Homo sapiens: one gene and its partners. The protein of the gene in region 3 interacts with the protein of the main gene of each other region in a pairwise test. Each region holds a gene or a part of one and is shown on either strand. Other genes may lie near its edges.

Evidence for each region.
Region 1: the proteins of CTXN3 (region 3) and ADGRG3 interact in binary tests that used the Homo sapiens proteins (3 or more experiments, as listed by UniProt).
Region 2: the proteins of CTXN3 (region 3) and KLRC1 interact in binary tests that used the Homo sapiens proteins (3 or more experiments, as listed by UniProt).

Annotation. Positions count from the first base shown.
Region 1 is NC_000016.10:57,685,265-57,689,878, forward strand, and holds the end of ADGRG3 (adhesion G protein-coupled receptor G3 isoform 1 precursor), read left to right. Parts: intron 1-378; coding exon 379-662; intron 663-3,087; coding exon 3,088-3,197; coding exon of another isoform or gene 3,198-3,423; 3' UTR 3,424-4,114; downstream 4,115-4,614. UniProt on the Homo sapiens protein: Adhesion G-protein coupled receptor (aGPCR) for glucocorticoid hormones such as cortisol, cortisone and 11-deoxycortisol.
Region 2 is NC_000012.12:10,445,528-10,450,418, reverse strand, and holds the end of KLRC1 (NKG2-A/NKG2-B type II integral membrane protein), read left to right. Parts: intron 1-451; coding exon 452-505; intron 506-1,030; coding exon 1,031-1,182; intron 1,183-2,786; coding exon 2,787-2,887; intron 2,888-3,756; coding exon 3,757-3,868; 3' UTR 3,869-4,391; downstream 4,392-4,891. UniProt on the Homo sapiens protein: Immune inhibitory receptor involved in self-nonself discrimination.
Region 3 is NC_000005.10:127,644,694-127,652,122, forward strand, and holds the start of CTXN3 (cortexin-3), read left to right. Parts: upstream 1-4,388; 5' UTR 4,389-4,695; intron 4,696-7,049; exon of another isoform or gene 7,050-7,128; intron 7,129-7,429.

The DNA of each region.
Region 1 (4,614 bases), on a different chromosome or scaffold from region 3:
CACAAGCCCATCTAATTAGCGGTCAGTTACTATCCTTCAGGAGGGCATCCACAGAGCTGCCAGGTGTATGATTTTATAGGAGAAGCAGAAATCTAGGTGTTTATACCAAAGCTTCTGATTTTAAAGGCGGCCACTAATTCCGTTTTTTTCACAATGTAATATGGGGCAAATGAAACATGTCTTTGAGGTCACTTTGGCATTAAAGAGACACCAGACTGGAGCCAGGTGACGGCCCCTCCCACAGCGGGAGAGCCAGGGATTGATGGGTGGAAATGGGAGAGGCACCTTCACAGACAGAAAAGCTCAGCCAGGGGACTTCCTGGGTTTGCTGGCCAGAGGTACCACTCCCAGTCCCACCACAGCTGCCCCCTCCTCCAGATGCTGGTTCCGTGAAGGGACAACCATGTACGCCCTCTATATCACCGTCCACGGCTACTTCCTCATCACCTTCCTCTTTGGCATGGTGGTCCTGGCCCTGGTGGTCTGGAAGATCTTCACCCTGTCCCGTGCTACAGCGGTCAAGGAGCGGGGGAAGAACCGGAAGAAGGTGCTCACCCTGCTGGGCCTCTCGAGCCTGGTGGGTGTGACATGGGGGTTGGCCATCTTCACCCCGTTGGGCCTCTCCACCGTCTACATCTTTGCACTTTTCAACTCCTTGCAAGGTGAGGCCCCTGCACCAGGGAGGTGATGGGCTGTGTTGTCTGTCCCAGGAGGTATTGGGAGGTGGGGAAGAGGGTGGTTTGCAAGACACAGGACTCTGTTCAGGCTAGCTGAAGTCAAGGATGTTGATTTCAAATACTCAGAGCAAGGATCCAGGGCAGCAAAGTTTGGCTGCTGTATTAGTCCGTTTGTGTTACTAGAATACAAAGGAATACTCGAGACTGGGTAATTTATAAAGAAAATGGGGTTAATTGGCTCATGGTTCTGCAGGCTTTAGACAAAGCACAACACCAGTATCTGCTCCTGGTGAGGCCTCAGGAAGCTTCCAATCATGGTGGAAGATAAAGGGGAGCCAGCGTATCACATGGCGAGAGTGGGAGCAAGGGAGTGGGGAGGCACCATGCCGTTTTAAACAGCGAGATCTCGCATGAACTCCAAGTGAGCACTCACTCATCACCAAGGGGATAGTGCTAAGCCATGCATGAGGATCCGCTCCAAGGATCCAATCTCCTCCCCTCAGGCCCCACCTCCAACATTGGGAATCACATTTGGACATGAGATTTGGAAGCAACAAACATCCCAGACATATCAGCTGCCTTCATGGGAGCTGCTACCAGAATCAGAAAAAGCCACCCAAACCAAAGCAGATACGTTCTCTATCTTTTTCCTGGAGCTATGGAGTCTCTCACCTAGTGTCTGTGGAAACTCCTTCATTCTCTCTCCACTTACCCTTTACTACCCATGGCCCCAAATTGTTACCCAACATGGCTGCCGTAACCCTACCTGACCTTGCAAGTTGGGTGTCCATCGTCCATCTCTGGTCCAATCAGCTGCGACCAGAAGGGCAGAATCATGTGATATGATGTCCACATGACATGGATGGGATCTCCAGGGATCTATGGAGGTAGGAAGGAAATGCTTGCTGTATTTGTTACTGGCCCCCGCAGGGCCCTTCCTCTGAGATCCCAGCAAAGGGGTAAGAGCAGTCCATGTGCTATGGTTTATATGTGTTCTCTTTGCTCCTTACATCCACAGCCCAGAGAGGCATCACAGTCTGACTGTGAGAGAAACAGCCAAGACAGGAGTGACGAGACTCAACCTGTTCAGGGAAGTCACTAGAAACCCAGGCGTCCTAGATGCAGCGGGTATAAGCCCCCAAGACCAGGACTGGCTCCCAGCGCCCCATGAGAGATGTGTGGCTTAGTGGCTAGGGCCAGGCAGCCCTGGGTCCAAATCCTAGCCCCATCCCTGACCCAGCAAGTCACTCAGCTCCTTCCGTCCTCATTCATCGCGAAATTGGGATAATCCCGTACTTATCTCACCAGCTTTTTTTTTTTTTTAATTGAGATGGAGTCTTGCTCTGTCACCCAGGCTGGAGTGCAGTGGCACGATCTCAGCTCACTGCGACCTCCACCTCCTGGGTTCAAGTAATTCTTCTGGTTTCAGCCTCCTGAGTAGCTGGAACTACAGGCACATGCCACCATGCCCAGCTAATTTTTGAATTTTTAGTAGAAATGGGGTTTCACCATACTGGTCAGGCTGGTCTCAAACTCCTGACCTCAGATGATCTACCTGCCTCAGCCTCCGAAAGTGCTGGGATTACAGGCGTGAGCCACTGTGCCTGGCCTGCCAGATTTCACAATGAACAATGACAATGCATATGTGGGAACTACTAGGTCTTCAATATGTGGGAACTATATTAATAATCATAGAAATTATGACTGTAAGGCCATCTGAGGCTGTCTCCAGGTGGAGAATCATGAGTCCATGCCTGGAGAATCCCAGGGGTTGATGGTTGGGGAGAAATGAACTTTGAAACTATAGCTGACATCGTTATTCTTTCAGAGGTTACCTTAATATGTAAGCCTGCACACTTCACTCTACTAAGTTTCCACTGGGTCTGAGTTATTCTGTATTTCTCTCTTCCTCTCCAATACAACAGAGCCCTTGGTATACTTGAATTGCCCATTGAACTCTTCTCAATATTTGTCTTGCATATAGAGGTTTAGTTACAGATTTCCTTGAAACATAGAGTTTTTCTAAGTCATGTTCTGTACTTACTATAATTTCTTTCACCCCACACTTTCCCTTTTCCTCTTGCTGGAGTGCCTCCCATAATAATCCTTTATAGAGGGAGTGATGGTTGTTTTGTATGTCTGAAAATTCCTCTATTTTGCTCTTTCTTTTCTGTAATAGGCATAGGTAGATATTTTATTTGAAGGTCTCTGTTTTTCATTTCCAAGATTTCGATTTGGTTCTTTTTTATTTCATTTTTGAAATGGTTGTGAAATGGTTGCATTTTTGCCTTTCCCAGCAGTTCTTGAGTGGTTACGGTGGGTCTCCTCCCTCTCAGCAGCCACCAGCCCAGGCTGCCCCACTCTCTGCCCACCCCTTTCCAGGCTCACCGAGGCCTCTCCTTCCTAACAGGTGTCTTCATCTGCTGCTGGTTCACCATCCTTTACCTCCCAAGTCAGAGCACCACAGTCTCCTCCTCTACTGCAAGATTGGACCAGGCCCACTCCGCATCTCAAGAATAGGAAGGCACGGCCCTGCAATATGGACTCAGCTCTGGCTCTCTGTGTGACCTTGGGCAGCTCCGTGCCTCTCTCTGTACTCCCTCAGTTTCCTTCTCTGTACAATGTGGCTGGGGAGGGAGAGGATGGGACCAGGTTGGACCACGTGGCATCAGAGGTCCCATCCAGATCCAACTATAGGTCCAAGAGTCCACGTAAGCAGGTTTGCAAGGCTCTAAAGTTCCTATAGTCCTGAGACCCCCTGCCAGCAAAGAGTGACAGTCACCTCCATGCCCTGCCCTCATTGCAAAGCCCTCACTCACCTTCTGGTCTCAGCAAGGGAGGAGAGTCTGTTGCTGGCATAGCCCTGGAAGGAGCCCCCAGCCTCTCCCCTCCTCCTCCTTGTCACTGGCCTCCCACAACTCCCCTTCTGGCTGCCTGTAACCTTGAGGGGCATTCAGGAGGCCAGCGTTCCCTCAGGCACTGGGGGTTTGTTTTGGGGGGTGGGAGTTGATCCTCCCACCCAGTCTGCCCCTGGTCTCTGCCCATCCAATCAGAGCCCACCCTCCTGGAAGAGACCCCCGTGTTCAGAGTGCTGGCAGCCCTGCACGTGTCCAGGGACACTGCATTTCAAAGAACCACTGAGTGGGTGAGCTACCTTGGGCAAACCCCCCACTCCTGACTCTGACTGCCACGTGGGTGGCCCGACCTCTGACCTGCTGTCATCGTAGAGGTAGAAAGCAAACAATCTGGGGCTCAGCACACCTGGGGGTGCTCCCACTCATTCAGTGTGTGGGGCCCCTGAGCAGAGGCTGGGCATTGCCACTAGGACCTGAGCTCCTAGAGAACAAGGACCTGGGTGGCCTCGCTTACTGTTCCAGCCCAGGCCAAGCACAGGGTCTGGCTCGTGGCAAACCTTGAATAAATATTTGTTGGCTGAATGAGTGGATGTATGAGTTTGGCACCAGCCTGGCAGATCCCTGAGCCAAGGGGGGTGTCTCAGGCCAGACCTAGGTTGGGCAGGGTACTTCCAGCAGCTGGGGCTCCATGTCACAATCGCATGCAGGTTTCTCAGTAGGAAACAAAAAGAGGCAGAGATAGCAGAGATGGGGTAGAGATACAGAGATGGAGAGAAGGAGAGAGAGACTTAACAGACAGGCTGACACAAAGAGGGAGAACGGTGGCGGAGAGACAGATGCAGAGAGATGGCAGCCCCACGCCGGCTCCAGCGACCCCCCTCCTCGGGGGGAGCAGTGAGTGTTGACATCATTCCCCTCCCTGGAGCCTCACCGCACAAGTCCATCCCTCACTCTACTCACAACTTACCAACCATTCTCCCTACCCGGCCCCCGACCCTCTCCAGGGAGCTCTGTGGACTGTCAAGCCCTGTCTGCAGGTGAGAAGTTACTGTCACTGTTAGGCCTCCCCCAACAGCCCTGGA
Region 2 (4,891 bases), on a different chromosome or scaffold from region 3:
TTTCATATTTTCAGGGAATAGAGTTCTCATTGTAATGTATATATTTGGACTAAATGTGGAATGATTATTCTGAATTTGTCAAAGAATAAATGAAAGAATAATTGTTGAAAGTATTCGCTTCTGATGCAATCGTATGTATATATTTGGATTTCATAACTCAAAAATATGTTCTAGGAGTCTGAAAAACCTTACTGAGAAATAGAAATTAATTTTTGAAAGTAGTTAAATCAAGAATTATAAGAACTATATGAGATGGTGAAATTTGGTTCTTTAGATCTATGAAATACTTTTCCAAAAAACCACCATTACTTTATCAAATTTTTCTTAAAATCAATTTTATTCCATATTATTCTAACTCTAAATAATACAAAAAAATTCAAACAAAAACTTAAAATTATTATGATTGATTTAGATGCTAATTTTTTTACAAAGATTACTTTAATTTTTCTAGCTACATTAATACAGAGGCACAACAATTCTTCCCTGAATACAAGAACTCAGAAAGGTATATAATAATTTTTAAAGTTTTAATATTGTACAGTTTATTTTTTCTTGATCTTAGGCTGTACAAAAATAAAATTTTGGGTGAAAAATTATAAAATTTGGCAATAAGTGTTCATAAATAAAATTAGAGTAAGGCATTCACTTGTCATCAACTATAAGTAAAATCACTATGCTTTCTTTTTATCTGTTGTGTTCAAATTCTTACTGCTATAATATGATAAGATACAAGTTATTTATTGTTCCTTAAAAATCAGATTAGTTCATTGATTTTTCAAGACATGTATAGAGTGGATTTTTGTTTGCTGGTTTGCTTTATATGGGAACACAATTAGGAGATGAAAGGCTGACCCTTTATTGCGCATGTGTGTATAAGTGACTGGGTATTTTGACACTATATATTTACCAGCCCATGAAGATGTATAGATATGTTGCATACGTATAGGTTTATATGTTTGCAAATATGTGAACTAATTTTCATTTTTAAAAATTCATATTGGTCTAGATAGTAATTCATATCTTTATTTAGCACGTCATTGTGGCCATTGTCCTGAGGAGTGGATTACATATTCCAACAGTTGTTACTACATTGGTAAGGAAAGAAGAACTTGGGAAGAGAGTTTGCTGGCCTGTACTTCGAAGAACTCCAGTCTGCTTTCTATAGATAATGAAGAAGAAATGGTAAGATGTAAATGTTTTAAACACTTTATGAAAAGCTTCTTTCGGTCGATAATATATTTGTAGAAATCATCCATATGTGTGGGTATATACATTTAGCTTATATGTTTTCAAGTTTATGTAGTATTTAATTGATTGACTTAATAATGTTTTAAAATTCATATACTGCTAATGTACTTTTGATTATTTTCAGTTTTTGCTTTTCATGGAAAACCATGCTTCTAGAAATGCTTTCAATCCACAATACATTTTGCTATCTAATTTTATCGGGCATGATGTGATCTGGTCATGCAGATTGATCACAAAGTGAATGAACTCCTGTGATACAAGTCAGATCATGAAATAAAAGTTTCCAGCTCTAGTAGTTCCACCCCTGTGTATGCCCTCATCACTTATCCTGACTCCTCTCCAAAACACTGTCTTGACTTTTAATGTTATAAATAACGTTTACCTGCTTTTGAATTTATATAAAGGGAATCATACACTGTGAATTTCATGTCTGTGTTTTTCACTCCTATCTGATATTTATGCAATTCCTCCATATTATTGCGGTTATCTGTCGTTTATTACTGTTCACTGCTGTAGTATGTACAAAGAACACTAAGAATCCATTCAATCCTGTGTCTCTGGATGGGGAAGTGAGTCTCATGCCCTCAGGGACAAAGAGGACCCTGGGTGGTGCACTGGTAGTCATTGGGTTCCTTTGCTGATCCTCCTCACCCACATCCACTCTGGTGTCTCTTGGTATGAGAAGGAAGTACTTCCTCTGGCTGTATTGGTAGCAAGTCTCCTGGTAGATCATCCTTGCCAGTGGTACCAGCCTTGCCTGTTGTTGCGGAGGGGACTCCCCTTCAATACAGAACAGGAGTGAGCTTTGCTGGGCCTCCTCCTATTGCCAGGTTGGGTGTAGGGAAACAGCAGGCCTAGGTCACCTTCTTCTGTCGTGTGGAGGACTTAACATGCTCGCTCGGACACTTGGTTGATCCCTGATGCTAGGGTCCCAGACAATTTCATCTTTCTCTTTCCACCTTTCAGAGTTCTCCATTGCTTTTGTCTTTCATTAATCCCAGAGTTTATAGTTGTTTTTAGTAGGGAGTAGCAGAGAGAGACGAGTCTACACCACCTGGTCAGGATCACTGTTATTCCACCAAAACCAAATCAGATAAAAAAGTGAGGGCTTATCTAGTTAAAGAATGGTGTGGTACCCAGAAAACCCAATATGTAGCTTCCATGTCATTTATTTCTGAATCACAACCTCTAATTTCTCTTCTAAATCTCCAACTCTGAGAAATATAGCACAAAAATAGTTTGATTTAGTCACAGTATCTGGAGGAATGAATGCACAGTATCAGGAGACTTATTTAAATCCTTACTGTGTTTATTCAGTCAATTGGGGTAACTATTATAATGCAAGAATTAAAACTTCTTTATTAACATGAGAAGAATAAAAGTACTAAGTATAAACATTGACGGGTTCATTTATATCAAAATTATAAACATTTATGAAAGTTTTTGGCACTGCAAATAGTGGTTTTCAAATTTAATATATTGTTTTTGTAATGTTTTCATAATTATTATTTAAGTGAAAATTCTTTCTTTTCTTTTAGAAATTTCTGTCCATCATTTCACCATCCTCATGGATTGGTGTGTTTCGTAACAGCAGTCATCATCCATGGGTGACAATGAATGGTTTGGCTTTCAAACATGAGTAAGTTGTTTTGTATGGCGCTATATAACAATATATATATAAAGGATAAATTCAGAAGAATAATATGAATAAATCTATGTGGAATCATAGAGATGAAGAAAGATGTGGAAAGTTAGTGAAATGCTGACATAAATATTTTACAATAGACCATAGTAGTCCATATATTTCAACCGCTCATTGGTCAGCTAGTAACCTTCTTGATTATCAGGTGTCCAATCTTTGGCTTCTGTGGGCCACATTGGAAGAAGAAGAGTCTTGGGCCACACATAAAATACACTAACACTAACGATAGCTGACGAGCAAAAAAAAGAAAAAAAAAATCACAGAATGTTTTAAGAAAGTTTACGTATATGTATTGGGCCGCATTTGAAGCTGTCCTGGGTCACATGCGGCCCGTGGGCAGCGAGTTGGACAAGCTCGAGCTGGACTATCAGGGAATTGCAGTGCTTGTTTTTATTAAAAAGCCACACTTACTTTTTTTCTTAAGAATATCCTCAAAGCACAAGAGTAGTGCTGTTGGCATATTGCTATAATTTTGTTATTAGTAGTTATTGTTGTCAATCTCTTATTGTGCCTAATTTATAAATTAAATTTTATCACAGTTATGAATGTGTAGAGAAAACATAATCTCTCTATAGGTTCTGCACTATCTGCCGTTTCAGGCATCCACTGGAATCTTGAAACATATCCCTCGTGGATGAAGGGGGACTACTCTGTTGAGTGTTCAGAATAATGACTCTTACTAATATTATGAAAAATTTAATTACCCTTTTCCATGAAATTATTTTCTTACAGTACATGGAAAATGCTTTCGTCTCATGAATCATTTGCTTAAAATGTAACAGAATATGGATTTTTCTCCATTACAGGATAAAAGACTCAGATAATGCTGAACTTAACTGTGCAGTGCTACAAGTAAATCGACTTAAATCAGCCCAGTGTGGATCTTCAATAATATATCATTGTAAGCATAAGCTTTAGAGGTAAAGCGTTTGCATTTGCAGTGCATCAGATAAATTGTATATTTCTTAAAATAGAAATATATTATGATTGCATAAATCTTAAAATGAATTATGTTATTTGCTCTAATAAGAAAATTCTAAATCAATTATTGAAACAGGATACACACAATTACTAAAGTACAGACATCCTAGCATTTGTGTCGGGCTCATTTTGCTCAACATGGTATTTGTGGTTTTCAGCCTTTCTAAAAGTTGCATGTTATGTGAGTCAGCTTATAGGAAGTACCAAGAACAGTCAAACCCATGGAGACAGAAAGTAGAATAGTGGTTGCCAATGTCTGAGGGAGGTTGAAATAGGAGATGACCTCTAACTGATAGAACGTTACTTTGTGTCGTGATGAAAACTTTCTAAATTTCAGTAGTGGTGATGGTTGTAACTCTGCGAATATACTAAACATCATTGATTTTTAATCATTTTAAGTGCATGAAATGTATGCTTTGTACACGACACTTCAATAAAGCTATCCAGAAAAAAAAAAAAAGCCTCTCCTGGGATTATTTGTGACTGCATTTATTCTCTAAAGTAATTTTTAAAGATTAGCTTCTTTATAATATTGACTTTTCTAATCAATATAAAGTGTTTCCTTCAATGTACTGTGTTATCTTTAATTTCTCTCTATTGTATTTTGTATTTTGGGGGATTGAAGTCATACAGAAATGTAGGTATTTTACATTTATGCTTTTGTAAATGGCATCCTGATTCTAAAATTCCCTTTAGTAATTTTTGTTGTTATAAATAGAAATACAACTGATGTCTGCATTTTGATTTTATATCTACTTATTCCACTGATTTTATATATGTAAATCTATTATGTCAACTATTGATTTATTTCTGGGTGTTCTATATAACGAGCAATTTTATCTGCACATGATCACACTTTTATTTTTTTAATCTATATGCTATAACGTAGTTTTATTTTCATTTATTTTCACTGGCTAGGGTTTTATACCCATAGTTGAATAGAAGGTACAATCAAAGTTC
Region 3 (7,429 bases):
CTCCTTTCCACCATTCTACAAGTATAAATATCAGAAATGGAAATCGGGTTTCCATGATTTTTTTTAAACAAGCATTTTTTAACTGCTTCATATGATATTTTTCTCCTCTGGGTGTTTTCAAAATTGATTTATCGGTGGAAGGATTTTCAGTTCCAGAATTGTGTTAGGTATTAAAGTCGGGCTAACAGGTCAGTTATTCCCAGGTACCTTCTATTTCATTTTCTCAATTATCCTAATGTTCTAAGCTGCTCAATCCTCAAACTGTCCATGCAGTAGTTTCCTTTCTAAAACGTAGCTGTTGAACAGAGAAAGAAGAGTTCCAAAATGACAGCATAAAAATATAGAGGAATGATTTGTATAAACTAATTGGCACTTTGTATGATATTTTAAAGGCATTAAGTATTTCAAACCCATTAAGAAAATTGTTATTATTGTACAAGTCACTTTAAAAGAATAAATTTACCCACCAGGCTGTTAGAGCCAAAGTATTTCCTTTGAACAGTGAATAATCCATAGTGATGTCCTTATACTTTTATACTGTAATTAGAATTAATAACTTAAATGTTGCAAATGTTGCTTCTAAATAGAACTACTGCTGTGTATTTTGTGAAGCTGCTCCTTCTTAGGGTTGGAGATCAGCTTTTTGGCAGCATGATTCATCACCTAGCTATATGCTTTGTTCTTACTTATACAGGAAAGGATTAACAAAATTTTATAGGGCAATCTATAATCCTCACAAGTATTAAATTCTGTCAGTGTTTTTTTTCTTGCACATATATTTCCACTTCGTTGCAGCATTCTCGTCTTCATTTTGAGTGCTTCTCTATTCTAGATGTATCAGCTACTAATTGAGCATTTAGCATTAAAACAGATGTGATATATACAGAAATGCATTCAAGAAAAGATCAAACAAGGAGGCTGCCAATCTGCAGTTGGACTTTAACCTGCTTGCTTTTAATAGCTCTTAAATATAGATCCCAATGTATAGGCTTGGTGTGAATATCATTAAACCTTTCCCACTGTTCCCTTAAGCTTTGAATGTTCACTGATCTGTGAAGATAGCTGAATGGATAAATAAACTTAGACCTGGCAAATCAGAGAGATTTTAGAAATAGAGCTAATCTTGACTTTTTTTTTTTTAAAGCAAAGCTTTATGTTGCCTGATATATTTTTTTTAAAACAAGAAGACAGAAATAAAAATAACACACATAAACTGACTAGCACTTTTTTAAAATGAATTAAAAAGTGGCGGGGTTATTAACATGTATTCTAGCCTGCTTGTCTTTCCACCTTCATTTCCCATTTGCTGGTAGTTGCATGAATTTTATTTGGCCTGAACCCCAGAGTGCAATAGAGAGGCGATGAAGAGAGAAGGCACTAAGGGAGAGGGGCCTAAGGGCTGAGATATATGTTCCCGCCACTCATTTTAATCCATGTGTTCTTTTTCTGAACCTTCCTTTCAGTGAGTGTTCAGCTGTGTTCAATGTTGCCAAAAAGCAAGGAAGATGAACACTAAAAGGACTCTTTGGCTTGAGGCAACCAGAAGCCACTAGTGACCTTGTGAAATCAGGTCCTGTAGAAAGGTGAGGAGACAGTTCAGATGTCTGCTGGGTGAGCCATGAAGGGGGAGGTTGGGAAGGTTAGGAATTGGAATTTAGTGGAAGTGGGCCAGTCTGTCAAGAAGCTCAGCAACCATCGCTAGAAGTGGAGCTCCTCAGGGCCCTGTTTACCAAGGAATCTCCTAGAGTTGTTCAGTGCACAACCTGAACAAACAGAAGCCAGGACCCAGTATTCGTGTTGTTTATTTTTTGCAACACCTAACACAGAACATATCTGACATTGAGAGCTAATGAATGATCCCTGGATAAGTGAAAGAAAGGACATACACAAAGGAGAGAAGAAAAGATTTTTACAAAGAGTCTATTGATAAGAACCATGTTTATATTTTGAAAGTTATATAGAGTTTTTGTTCAATTTATTTTGAGAATTAGGCAGAGTTAGACAGAAACACAGTAATAATAATAATACAGCCTTGTACTGGCATGAAGACTGATGGCTTATAGTCTTTTTTTCAGATTCATTATCTATTTCTTCATGGAAAAGTGCATCATAGGACATTTAGGAAAGAATTGCAAATTAAAGAACATTAAAGGTGAGGCTTGAAATAAAAATGTAGAAGTTTTTAAAGTAGATTTCTAACTAATAATAACTCATGATGTTGTGTAACTAAAGAGAAAGACTAAGTTACACCCAGGAGTGGCCCTGGATCAGAATGGGTAAGTAGAAGCACAGCATATATAGCCATTTATACATCATAAAATCATCCTGTTTCATCACAATTCCGTGTGTATCTGAGCTGTGTACAGCTCGGTATAGTATTCTAGGCTTCCTATTTAATGTTGCACCAGAGAGCAGAAATTTTAAGAATTCAGAGAAGAGATATAAAGATTATTAAAAGCGAAAGAAATAGGATCTAATATAAAATGTTCAAATGGAACTTTGGTAAACCCTTATTCATTGTTTTAGAATTCATGATGATTCACATAATATAGCTGCATAAGGGGAAGGGCTGATTTTAATAATTTCCATTATAATTATCTTTAAGAAGAAAGGTTTAAATTTAGCTCCAAGCATAACACCAGATCTTCATCAAATACTCTTTGGTTTATCTAGTTCGGCTTCTCTGAAAGGAAAGGGCATTCTAACAAAATTTTGGAGTGGTTAGTGCCTGACTTTTTGCAGCAAGGACAGAATGAAAAGAAATGCGCCAACACATTTAGACTAAGTAAGCAGCAGAGGAGTTTGTTTAAACAGAGGTTGTCAGAGGAAGTTATGGCATCTACTTCTCTGGAGACTTTTTAAAATAGGCCAGGCACTCATCTCTCTGGGATGGTTTCAGCCTGCAGAGTAGCTAGAGGACAGCCCCAGGCCTTTTCAGGTTCCCTTCTCCCTCTACGAGTCTGTAGGCTAAACCATATCCGAGAAGGCCTCTTTGGCAGGGTAAGCTACAGTCACCCAGGCTCATGTCTAACTATGATATTTTCTCACCGCATGGAATGATAATTATAGGAAGGAGGGTGAGGTCGGAAAGATTCCTCAACCACACTCTGTTGGCATTGCCAAAACAGGCACTCCCTCTGCCAGAATTGACTAAATGCAAGAGGGATGCCAGTTAGTACAGGATGATCGTGCTCAGTTGGATTTCATGTGTCCCATTGTCTTACGGTGTGTGGTATGTGTGTGTCTGAAAATAGGGTAAGTAAAATGAATTGGAAAGAAAATTCAGTTAAAAATTAGGAAAACAAATGGGGAAAGAACCTGCATATTGTCTTGAGGTTAGACTCTAACATCAAGCATTCGATCCTAACATTTAGCATTTGATTTGAAAGGTTCCTTTGGGGTCCGAGGCCTATCCTATCCAGGATTGTGGTCCGTTGTGAGCAGATGGGGTTTCCCTCTTAGAAGATGAGCTTGGTTCCAGTTTCCTAGAGCCTTTGGGTAATGGCCGGTTGCTCACAAGAGCTGAGGAGACAGCATAGCTGACAGGCACAGTCAGAGGCAGCTTTAAATATCACGCACCCCATCATTTGGTGGGTGGGTGTGTTGTCGCTAACTGTGCCGCCACTTCAACAAAGAAAGTGGTGAGTTGCCAAAAAACAAGGATGCTCCGTCTTAAGCATTAGGCTGAATTCTTCTTAGAGAAGTGTTTTTTTAATGAAGAATTTTATCCTAAAATATTTTCCAAATTTACTTATCCAACGAAAGTAATTTAAGCATTGTAGCAAGTAACTAGAATCTGCAGAATGAGAACAACTTTCTCTCACAAAAATCAATCTTCTTTATTCATCGAGTGGTCTCAGGTGCCCTGTGTGGGGTGGGGGCTTTCCCAATGCCACAATTATGCAGGCTGCTCAGAGAGACACTGGACCTGGCAACCAACTGCCCAGCTAATTTACAAGCAGGTGACAGGTGGTGAAACTATGATTTTGATATTTTTAAATGGTTCTTTCCTTCCCATAAATGCTGCTTTTTGGAAAGGTCACTTTAGTTTTCTTTAGGAAAATGAGCCTTTTCTCCCTCTCCCAAATGCTAAGTTGATGCCCTTCCCCAGAAGTCTTCCTGTTAATTGAGTTGGCCTGAAGGTCATCAACAATAATCAATATGAAGACTTGCTGCGACGTGCTAATTGACACTCCCAAAGAGGAATAGTGTCAACAATCAATAAAGAGGACAGAGCACTGGTAGATTTATGGCTTTGATTTTGAAAAGGTATAGGAATGCCTGTGATGTTTCCCCACCCCCCAACCCCGTACTCCTTTTGAATGTTAATGCTTTCTTGAAGATGATTTCAGACACACTGCTAGGATACTGCCTCTACTCGCTGAAGCAGAATCCTCTGAAGAGTTGCTGAGGCAGAACTGAAATCATGGCTCACCTCAAAGAAGCAGCAGTATTGGCCGTTAATGATGCCTCACACAGAAAGACGATGCTCCTTTAACTCGGGGTTTTAATGGGAAGTTTCTAAGCCTGAAACAACAGCTTTAGACCTGGGGTGTGCCATCAGCTGCCTTGCAGCTACCACTGTCTACTGCTTTCACACAGCGTGGTCGGGAAGAATGGAAACTAAAGAGGCTTGTAACTACCTGTAACTGTTCCACCAGGAAATGGATCAAGTGTTTGTTCAGCCAGAGCCAGGTACTTGACCCAACCTGTATCTTTGACGGGCTAATTAAATGCTTTTCTCTAACTTTACAATTGATGCATGAGCAATCATCGCATACATGCCTTTCGGATCATAGTTGTGAATTTAGATCTAGCTGTTAGATAAGTCTAATTAAACAATTGCTAGATAAAGTTAAGAAGCGAGGGGGTAAAATGTAATGATGCCTTTATTTTTAAAGCATGGTTAAGTTTATAATGTTATTGATACTGGATGAAGAAGTAGTAAAACAGGCTTTTTTTTCTTTCCTAAGCTGCAGTAATTTATTTCTGAAAGCTGTTTGCCCATTATCGTATTTTTTTTTTCAGTCACCTAAAACGTCCAACCTTCCAAAATGTAACAAGGATGTTCTGATTTGTTTACAAAGGATCACAACTCAACCACTCATATTGACAGCGTTGACTGTCCCTGGCTGATAAGCTGTGTGCAGCACTATCCTTTTGAGATATCAGCAAGTAGCCGTTTTCACTATGAAACACACAAAGAAAGACAAAGAAAACCAGGTGGAACAGTAGGGCTTATTATTTGAAGTTAAAAGTTCCAGTTCGTTAAGGGTGCCTTCTGATACCACCGATTCCTGACTAGGCACCCTCATGGTGTTTTCTGATGTTCTCAGCTAGGCAGTAGCCTTGCCCTGCAGTCCCTTAAAAATTCCTCAAGCAGATATTAAGAGGAAGATGAAGATGGGGAAGAAGTAAAGCTGAGATTGGGGCTGAGGCTGAAGACAAAGGTCTCCTGCTGACCCAGAGCTTAAAAGCAGCAGTGAGTTGAGAATAACAGGGTCCACTCCCAGCCCAAGCAGACGTGTCTGCAGGCTGACTTTGCAGAAACAAGCAGAGAACAGACTTCCCAGTGCAGCAGTGGGGGCTGGCAACAGTTCTGAAACTGCCTGTTGACATCTGTAGCTGAAGACATCCTCATGTTTATGAAATCATTGTTCGTAGGCTTTCTAGTAGACTTGAGTCTATGTTTTGAGAGTATAAAATATATTTACCCTTAGCCCCCCTTTGAATTTTGAAGCATCAGGGCTATTGTATTGGAACAGGAGGGCTGTACTTGGAAAAAAATATAGAGATGTTGCCGTGTATATGAGCCAAAAACAAGGGGAGTGGGAGGATTTAAAATCTATGAAACACCTAGAAAGAGCCAGGAAATCTTTACCTGAAGTTCTTTGCTGGTAAGCAAGAGGGCCATGAATTCTTTGAATTTATATGAAATATTTTGTATCTTTGTGTGTATATCCTGAATGCAAGTTACTGTTCACTAGAATAATACACAGAATTTCTAAAAGATTTGTAGGGGAATAATATTTGCTTATGTGGTGATTCTGTTGCTTAGATAACGAGGTGGCTTATACAGATGACTCACAGTTGTGGTGGGGATGGATAATAGGATCATTTGGGAGATTTACACATCTAGGGTGGGTGAGTGGGTTGGAGAATGAAATGTACTTTGAGAGACTACAGTTATACAAACAGGAATGCAGCCCAGGCTTCCTTTAGTGCTAAAAGTAGAGAGGGATTCTATTTAGGCTCAGTATCAGGATGTGTATTACTTGAATCATTCAAAGCCATGTTAACATTTCCACAGTTAACTTCAGAACTGTTGCAGAATAATGCAGCATTTTGAGTAAGTTTGTCTCTGTTGGTCACCGCAAATTCAGTCCTGCCTAGCTAGGCAATTCCGTTCCTGTTAAAGTCTAAAGATTGGTCTCGCTAGTCTGCCAGATAAATATAAATAAGGTTGATAGTATATCTTTGCAGGATAAAGTGTCCTGTCTATCACATGTGAATGGAAACTGGACAAGCCCAAGAGTGTCCTTGCTCAATGGATGGGCTGTTTTGACACCTACTTTTGAAACCACGTCAAGTCACGTAACTAGGTTTCTGATCCAGAAGTTTTAAAAATTAGGTACTGCAATTATGTGGTTTAGGAATATTTAAAATACAGACAGCATTGCTTCACTGCACCCTACAGGCCGTTAACACCTGAGGGATGACACCTTCAATTCATTCCAACGTGCCAGTGAAAAACTAGGGATCTACCATCATTTGGCGTTGGGGTGGTAGGGGGTGGTGCTACCTTTTTGGTAACGATTTTTATAATTCTGGGCAGTTTATTTATAATTTTCATACCTTAGTGTGCTTGATCACATAATAGAAATTAAAAATAAATAACATTTTGCACAAAAATGGTGTAAAAAGAAAACACTCATTCATCCCCACCTACTTATCAAATCCCCACTATGTGCCAGGCAGGACTACACAGGTACTGCAACTATTAATTAGATCATTGCACCCTATTGCAAAAGGGTGGGCTCTTGAGTTGATGACCTGTAGAATCAAGTCCCTGTGTGTGGCTCCACAGAACAAGGTGTCCAATGCACTTAAGTAATTCTGTCGCTGTCACTTAAAAAAAAAAAAGAAAAGAAACATGTCATTGCTTTAAGATACATTTTCTTCAGAGAAAGTATTTTTTCCTTACTGTGAAATTGTATAATGAGATGCTAATGAAATAAAATGTCCAAGGGATCCAAGCCTGAGAAGGGTACATGTTGACATTAATAGTTTTTGTGTAAGACATTTGGATTCAGGATATTTTAAATGGCTGCCCTTCCCCACCAAAAAGTAGATTAGGTAAGAAAGAATTGACCTCTTAAATAAAAGGGTAACTTTCAATTTCTGGCTGATTTTTATATTTCAGATTCCA